Linked DNA regions of Homo sapiens. The protein of the gene in region 2 purifies or fractionates together with the protein of the main gene of each other region. This does not show direct contact. Each region holds a gene or a part of one and is shown on either strand. Other genes may lie near its edges.

Evidence for each region.
Region 1: the proteins of BUD13 (region 2) and DHX8 purify together in Homo sapiens (co-immunoprecipitation; one large-scale study listed by IntAct). This does not show direct contact.

Annotation. Positions count from the first base shown.
Region 1 is NC_000017.11:43,500,947-43,504,501, forward strand, and holds part of DHX8 (ATP-dependent RNA helicase DHX8), read left to right. Parts: intron 1-3,555.
Region 2 is NC_000011.10:116,752,482-116,756,036, reverse strand, and holds part of BUD13 (BUD13 homolog), read left to right. Parts: intron 1-3,555. UniProt on the Homo sapiens protein: Involved in pre-mRNA splicing as component of the activated spliceosome. As a component of the minor spliceosome, involved in the splicing of U12-type introns in pre-mRNAs.

The DNA.
Region 1 (3,555 bases), on a different chromosome or scaffold from region 2:
GAAGCTTCCTTTTTCATATAATTCTTTGTGCAGTAAATATTAGCTACTAGATATAGTCATAACAAATACTTATTAATTTAATTTGTGTTTGGCAACTGGGGATACGATTTGAATTAAACAGATATGATCCCTGCTTTTATGCGCTACAACTTAGTCGGGGATATGGATATTAATTAAATAATCACCAAATAATTAAATTATGATCAGTGCCATGTGAAGAAGTACAGGCAGTGTAATTGACTGTGGTGGGTCACTTCCCTGGGGAAATCGAGACCCAAAGGATAAATTGGACTCAGTCTGTCAAGTGGAGATGGGATGGAGGTTGGGGAGTATGTTCCAGCCTGAGGAGTAGCCCGTGTTGGGTTTGTGGGGTGGGAAAGAAGGAACTGAAAGAAGGCTTGTGTGGATGGAATAGAGAGAGCAGTGGGCAGTGGTAGGGGATGAGATAAGAACATCAGGCCAGGGCTTTGTAGGTGGCATTAGGAAGCTGGGCTCAATTCTAATAGCACTGGGAGATGTTGAAAAGTTCTTTTGTTGTTGTTGTTTTTGTTTCTGAGACAGAGTTTTGCTCTTGTTGCCTAGGCTGGAGTGCAACACCATGATCTTGACTCACTGCAACCTCCACCTCCCTGGTTCAAGTGATTCTCCTGCCTCAGACTCCCAGGTAGCTGGGATTACAGGCATGCACCACCACGCCTAGCTAATTTTTTGTATTTTTAGTAGAGACGAGGTTCCTCCATGTTGGTCAGGCTGGTCTCGAACTCGCGACCTCAGGTGATCCCCCCCCCATCTCAGCCTCCCAAAGTGCCGGGATTACAAGTGTGAGCCACCGTGCCCAGCCAGATGTTGAAAGTTTGCAGCTGGCACATGGCATGACCAGAGTTGCATTTCCAAAGGATGATTGAGGGTGCCCTGCAGAATGAGTTGGATGGGGCACATGTGATGATTTAGAAAGCTTTTATGAAGAGAGAGAATGGTGGCTTGAACATGGAGGTAGCAAAGAGGAGGGATGTACTTGAGAAAAGTAATTTGTTGAATGTGGGGCAACAGGAATGGTCAAAGATGACTTCCAGGTTTCTGGTATGAGCACTAGGATGAATGATGGGAACACTGGAGGAGAAATGGGTTTGTGGGGAAAGATGGTCAAATTCCGTTTTGGACTTGTGTCCGAGGCAACTAGAGGACATCTTAGGTTGAGGTATCCAGTGTAGAATTGAGTATAAGAGCTCAGAAGAGAGGTCTGGGCTGGAGACAGAAGTTTGGGAATTGTGTTAATTTAGATATCAGTTTGGCTGCATGTAATAGAGATTCAAATATTAGATTAGGTTCGGCATGATGGCTCACGCCTGTAATCCCAACACTTTGGGAGGCCGAGGCAGGAGAATTGCTTGAGGCCAGGAGTTCAAGACCAGTCTGGGCAACATAGTAAGACCTTATCTGTATTTTATTTTATTTTGTTTTGTTTTGTTATTTTAGTTTAGTTTAGTTTAGTTTTTGAGATGGAGTCTCACTATGTTGCCCCAGCTGGAGTGCAGTGGTGCAGTCTTGGCTCACTGCAACCTCTGCCTCCTGGGTTCAAGCGATTCTCCTGCCTCAGCCTCAAGTAGCTGGGACTACAGGTGACCGCCACCACGCACGAGTAATTATTTTGCATTTTTGGTAGAGACAGCGTTTCACCATGTTGGTCAGGCTGGTCTCGAACTTCTGACCTCAAATGATCTTGCCCACCTTGGCCTCCCAAAGTGCTGGGATTACTGGTGAGCCACCGTGCCTAGCCCTTGTCTCTATTTTAAAATTAAATTTTTAAAAACGACAAAAATAAAAACCAAAATATTAGATTTACAGTAGAAGGTTGGACATATTCGTTCATTGTTTAACAATATCATCTTCCATTTCCTCAGAATAAACCCATTCATTCCCTTTTACCCTTTAGTGAAATGTTCTCCATGACCCTCCTTTGGCCTCTGCCTAAGCTCACTTATTTGGTTAGTAGGCATAAGTATTTTTTCGTAGCCAGCTTTTGGCATCAAATTTGTAAAATGTTTGCATATGCTAGAGAGCCACTAAAATTCTGCTCATTTTTTTTTGCTCCTCAAGCCACAATTCCAAGGTGAATCTTGAAAATATAAGCTAGGTCTGGGCAAGGTGGCTCACACCTGTAATCCCAGCACTTTGGGAGGCTGAGGCAGACAGATCACTTGAGTTGGGGAATTTGAAACCAAGCTGGGCAATGTGGTGAAACCCTGTCTCTAAAAAAATACAAAAATTAGTCCAGGCATGGTGGCTCATGCCTGTAATCCCAGCAGTTTGGGAGGCTGAGGCGGGTGGATCACCTGAGGTCAGGAGTTTGAGACCAGCCTAGCCAACATAGTGAAACCCCATCTGTGCTAAAAACAGAAAAATTAACAGATGTGGTGGCACGCACCTGTAATCCCAGCTGCTAGGGAGGCTGAGGCAAGAGAATCACTTGAACCTGGGAGGCGGAGGTTGCAGTGAGCCGAGATCACGCCATTGCACTCCAGCCTGGACAACAATTGCGAAACTCCATCTAAAAAAAAAAAAAAAAAGTTTAGCCGTGTGTAATCACGTGCACCTGTATTCCCAGCTACTCAGGAGGCTAACGTGGGAGGATTGCTTGAGCCCAGGAGGTGGAGGTTGCTGAGCTGAGATCTCGCCACTGCACTCCAGCCTGCTGGGCGTCTGAGCCAGACCCTGTCTCAGAAAAAGAAAAAAATTAATCTGAGAGAAACCAGGCACAACAGACCACATATTGTATGAAGTATCCAGAATAGAACCCGTAGACATAGAAAGTAGACTAATGGTTGCCAAGGGAAAGGAAAAGGGAGGAATGGGGAGTAACTGCTAATGGGTACAGGGTTTCTTTCTGATATGATGAAAATACTCTAAATAGTGGGGATAGTTGCACAACTTAATGAATATACAGTAAAACACTGAGTTAAACACTTAAAAAGAGTAACACGGAGACCTGGCTTGGTGGCTCATACCTGTAATCCCAGCACTTTGGGAGGCCAAGGAGAGAGGATTCCTTGAACCCAGGAATTTGAGGCTGCAGTGAGCCGTGATTGCGTCACTGCACTCCAGCCTGGGAAACAGAGCAAGACCCTGTCTCAAAAAAATAAAATAAAATAAAAAAAGTGTAACATGGTTTGTGAATTACATCTCGATATAGCAGTTATTTAAAAAGGGGAGAGTGCTGCGCATGGTGGCCATACCTGTAATTCCATTACTTTGGGAGGGTGAGATGGGTGGATTGCTTTAGCCCAGGAGTTCGAGACCAGCCTGGCAACATAGAGTGACCTCTTCTCGCTTGAGCCCAGAAGGTCGGGGCTGCAGTGAGTCAGGATTGCACCACTGCACTCCCACTTGGATGACAGAGCAAGACCCTACCTAAAAAAAAATAATTCCAGTGTCAAGCAGTCAGGTCTTCACTTCTCTCAACTAACCTTTTTTCTGACATCACAGGTGTGTAGCACCACTTGTTACAGTCTCTTTCCCATTCCCTGCTGCCCCTTCTATATTCTTTTCTTCACATTA
Region 2 (3,555 bases):
GAGGTTTTGCCACATTGACCAGGCTGGTCTTGAATTCTTGGGCTCATATGATTGTCTGCCTCGATTTCCCAAAGTGCTGGGATTACACGCTTGAGCCACCGTGCCTGGCCTACGCTCTTAAAAATTACTGATGACCTCAAAAAGCTTTTGTTGATGTGGATTATATATATTGATATTTACCATATTATAAATTAAAACTCAGACATTTAAAAAGTATTTATTCATTCAAAAAAAAATAAACTAATTATGTTAACATAATTACTGTATATTTAAATGAAAAATAATTACATTTTCCAAGTGAAAAAACAGAAGGATGGCATTGATTTACATTTTTGCAAATCTCATTAATGTCTGACTTAATAATAGGTAACTTGACTCTGTATTTGTCTGTTGTGATTTGTTCAGTTGAAGTATAGAAAGAAAATTTAGCCTCACACATAGGTAGTTAGAAAGAGAAGGCATATTATATTTCTTAATGTTACACAAAAACTCAACAAGTGCTGGTTTCTTAAAGGTGAGCTATGTGGAACCTGAAACCAGATCAAAGAACTTTCCTTACTGTTATATTAATTTTTTTAATACTTTGAGTGGATCTTTTACCCATGCATGATTTTATAACATCATGCATTGGTCATTTGTAAAATATTGGTTTGCTGAGTTGTTCAGACCTTCCAAATGTTGACATATTTCCACTATACAATATCAGAAAATCACTTTTGTTAACATCACTTCCGGTCTTATCACAAAACTCTTTAAATAATGGGAAGTTAAAGAGTTCACAGTTTTTCAGAATTCTAATTTACACTTGAAAGTTTAAATGTTATCACTGGCATTTCCATTGCTTGAGCTATTTCCATTTAATAGCTTAATTTCTCTGCTGAGATTTCCCATCTGTTCATTATGAGATATTTTCCTCTTCTTGAAAATATTTGTGATATGTAATTGGTGCTTTGAAGTCCTTCCTGTCTGTTAATTGCAACATTGGATTCACCACAGGATTGGTTTCTATATTGGCAGCTTTTTCTTCAGTGTGTATTACATTTTCCTGTTTATTTACCTGTCTGGTCACTTTTTTAAATTGTTACTGGACATCATGAATGATATACTGTAGAGACTTTGAGTTCTGTTACACTGTATTGTCAGTTGTTTTCCTTCAGGTAAAGCTCACTTTGTACAATAGCTTTTTATAGATTCCATCAGATTTTGTACCTAGAGGGTCTTCCATCTTTGCATACAGTTTAATTTCTTACTTTACAATCTAGATGCTTTTTGTTTCTTTTCCTTGCCCTGTTGCATTAGCTAGCACTTCAGTGCAGATGTTGAATAGAAGTAGTGAGAGCAGACATCTTTGCTTTGTTCCTAATCTCAGGAAGAAAACATTTAGTTTTTACAACACATTTATTAAATGTGTTGTAGCTGTATAGGTTTTTTGTAGATATCCTTTATGGAGTTAAAGTTCCCTTCTATTCCTGTTTTGCTGAGAGTTTTGTTTTCAGGAATGTATGTTGGATTTTGTTCAAAATATTTTCTAATTATCCTTTTGGTTTATTCTTTGCTCCATGGGTTATTTAGGAGTGCATTAATTCCAAATATTTGGACTTTTCTAGATATCTTACTGCTATTTACTTATAATTTAATTCCATTTTGGTCAGATAATATACTGTAATATTTTGATCTTTTGAAATTTGTTGGCCAGGCACAGTGGCTCATGCCTGTAATCCCAACATTTTGGGAGCCCAAGGCAGACGGATTGCTTGAGCCTAGGAGTTTGAGACCAGCCTGGGCAACATGGCAAAACCCTGTCTCTACAAAAAAATACAAAAATTAGTCGGGCATGGTGGCACACGCCTATAGTCCCAGCTACTGTGGAGGCTGAGGTGGGAGGATCACTGAGCCCAGGGAGGTCGAGGCTGCAATGTGCTGTGATTGCACCACTGCACTCCAGCCTGGATGACAGAGTGAGACCATGTATCAAAAAACAATAATAAAAATGAAATTTGTTAAGGTGTGTTTTATGGCCCAGTGGATAGTCTATCTTCTGAATGTTTCCTTTGCACTTGAAGAGAACGTATATTCTGTAGCTATATAAGGTAGTGTTTTATAAAAGTCAGTGAGGTCAAGGTGTTTAGATCTTAGATCGCCTGTATTCTGGGTTTTTTGTGTTTGTATTTTTCTATCAGTTACTATCAATTGTGGATTTTTTGTTTTAGCTGGTTTATTTTGTTTTTCAACTCTAAAATTTCCATTTAATAGCTTACATTTCTCTGCTGAGATTTCCCATCTGTTCATTATGAGACATTTTCCTCTTCTTGAAAATATTTATGATATGTAATTAGTGCTTTGAAGTCCTGTCTGCTAATTGCAACATTGGATTCACCACAGGATTGGTTTCTATTGACAGCTTTTTCTTCAGTGTGTATTACATTTTCCTGTTTATTTACCTGTCTGGTCACTTTTTAAAATTGTTACTACGCATCATGAATGATACACTGTAGAGACTTTGAGTTCTGTTACACTGTATTCCTCTTAAGTGTGTTAGTTTTTATTCTAGCAGGTAGTTAACATAGCTGAACTCCAAACTGTCTCCTTTGCAGTGGACGGCAGCTACAATCTTTGCTCAGTTCTTTTAGTTTCTAGCTGCCATTTTTTTAATTGGCCTGATGGTATTTTCTCTGCACATGTGTCATTTAACAGTTAGCCAAGGATTTGACTAGGGTTTGTATGTAGATTTTGAGGTTCATCTCTTTTGTAGTTCCTTCTCTTCCAAGATTTCCCCCCTAATTTCCTAGCTGTTCTGCCCACTTTGCACTAATTCCTCAAGCCAGTAAGCCTGTGGCTTTCTGCCTTCATGAGCCATGCTGTTTGGGAAGTTGCCCTCCAGCAAATCTCTTTTCACATATAGACTTCATCCAGTTCATACTTACTTTTGGTCACTCTTCCACACCTTCAAATACCTATTTTTTTTGTTTTGTCTAGGTTTTATAGTTGCTAACTGAGGATAGGTTAGTCTGTTCGGGTTACTCTGCAATGTCTAGAATCTGTCTCCCCACCTTATATGGGCCTAAGGCGTTGTCTTCTGTCCCTCGGGGTGCCGTCAAAATCCAACAGCCAGGTGTGGTGGCGTGTGTCTGTAGTACCAGCTATTTGGGAGGCTGAGGCAGGAAGATCGCTTGAACCCAGGAGTTTAAGTCCAGGCTAGGCAACATAGTGAGACCCCAACTCCAGAATAAAAAAATTTAAGGCTCTTCTTTCTGATATTGGCAGATATCTATAAGTTGACTGTAGTTCCTCATCTTGGCAGATATCTTTAGGGTAGCTGTGGTTACAGGCTAGCTTACTAGTTCCGTTTGCAGTTCACTGTATGTAGGCTTTTTGGTAGAAGGAGGATTTTTCAGAACACTCATTTGCCATACATACAGCCAGAAGTAGATCTTTTTATAGCACAACCCTACAGATGTTCCCTGCTACCGAGTTTTTGTTTTTTGTTTTTTAATTTTTGGACCCAAAACTTAGAATTCTCCCTGACCTAGTTTTTTTTTACTAGTATTTAATTTG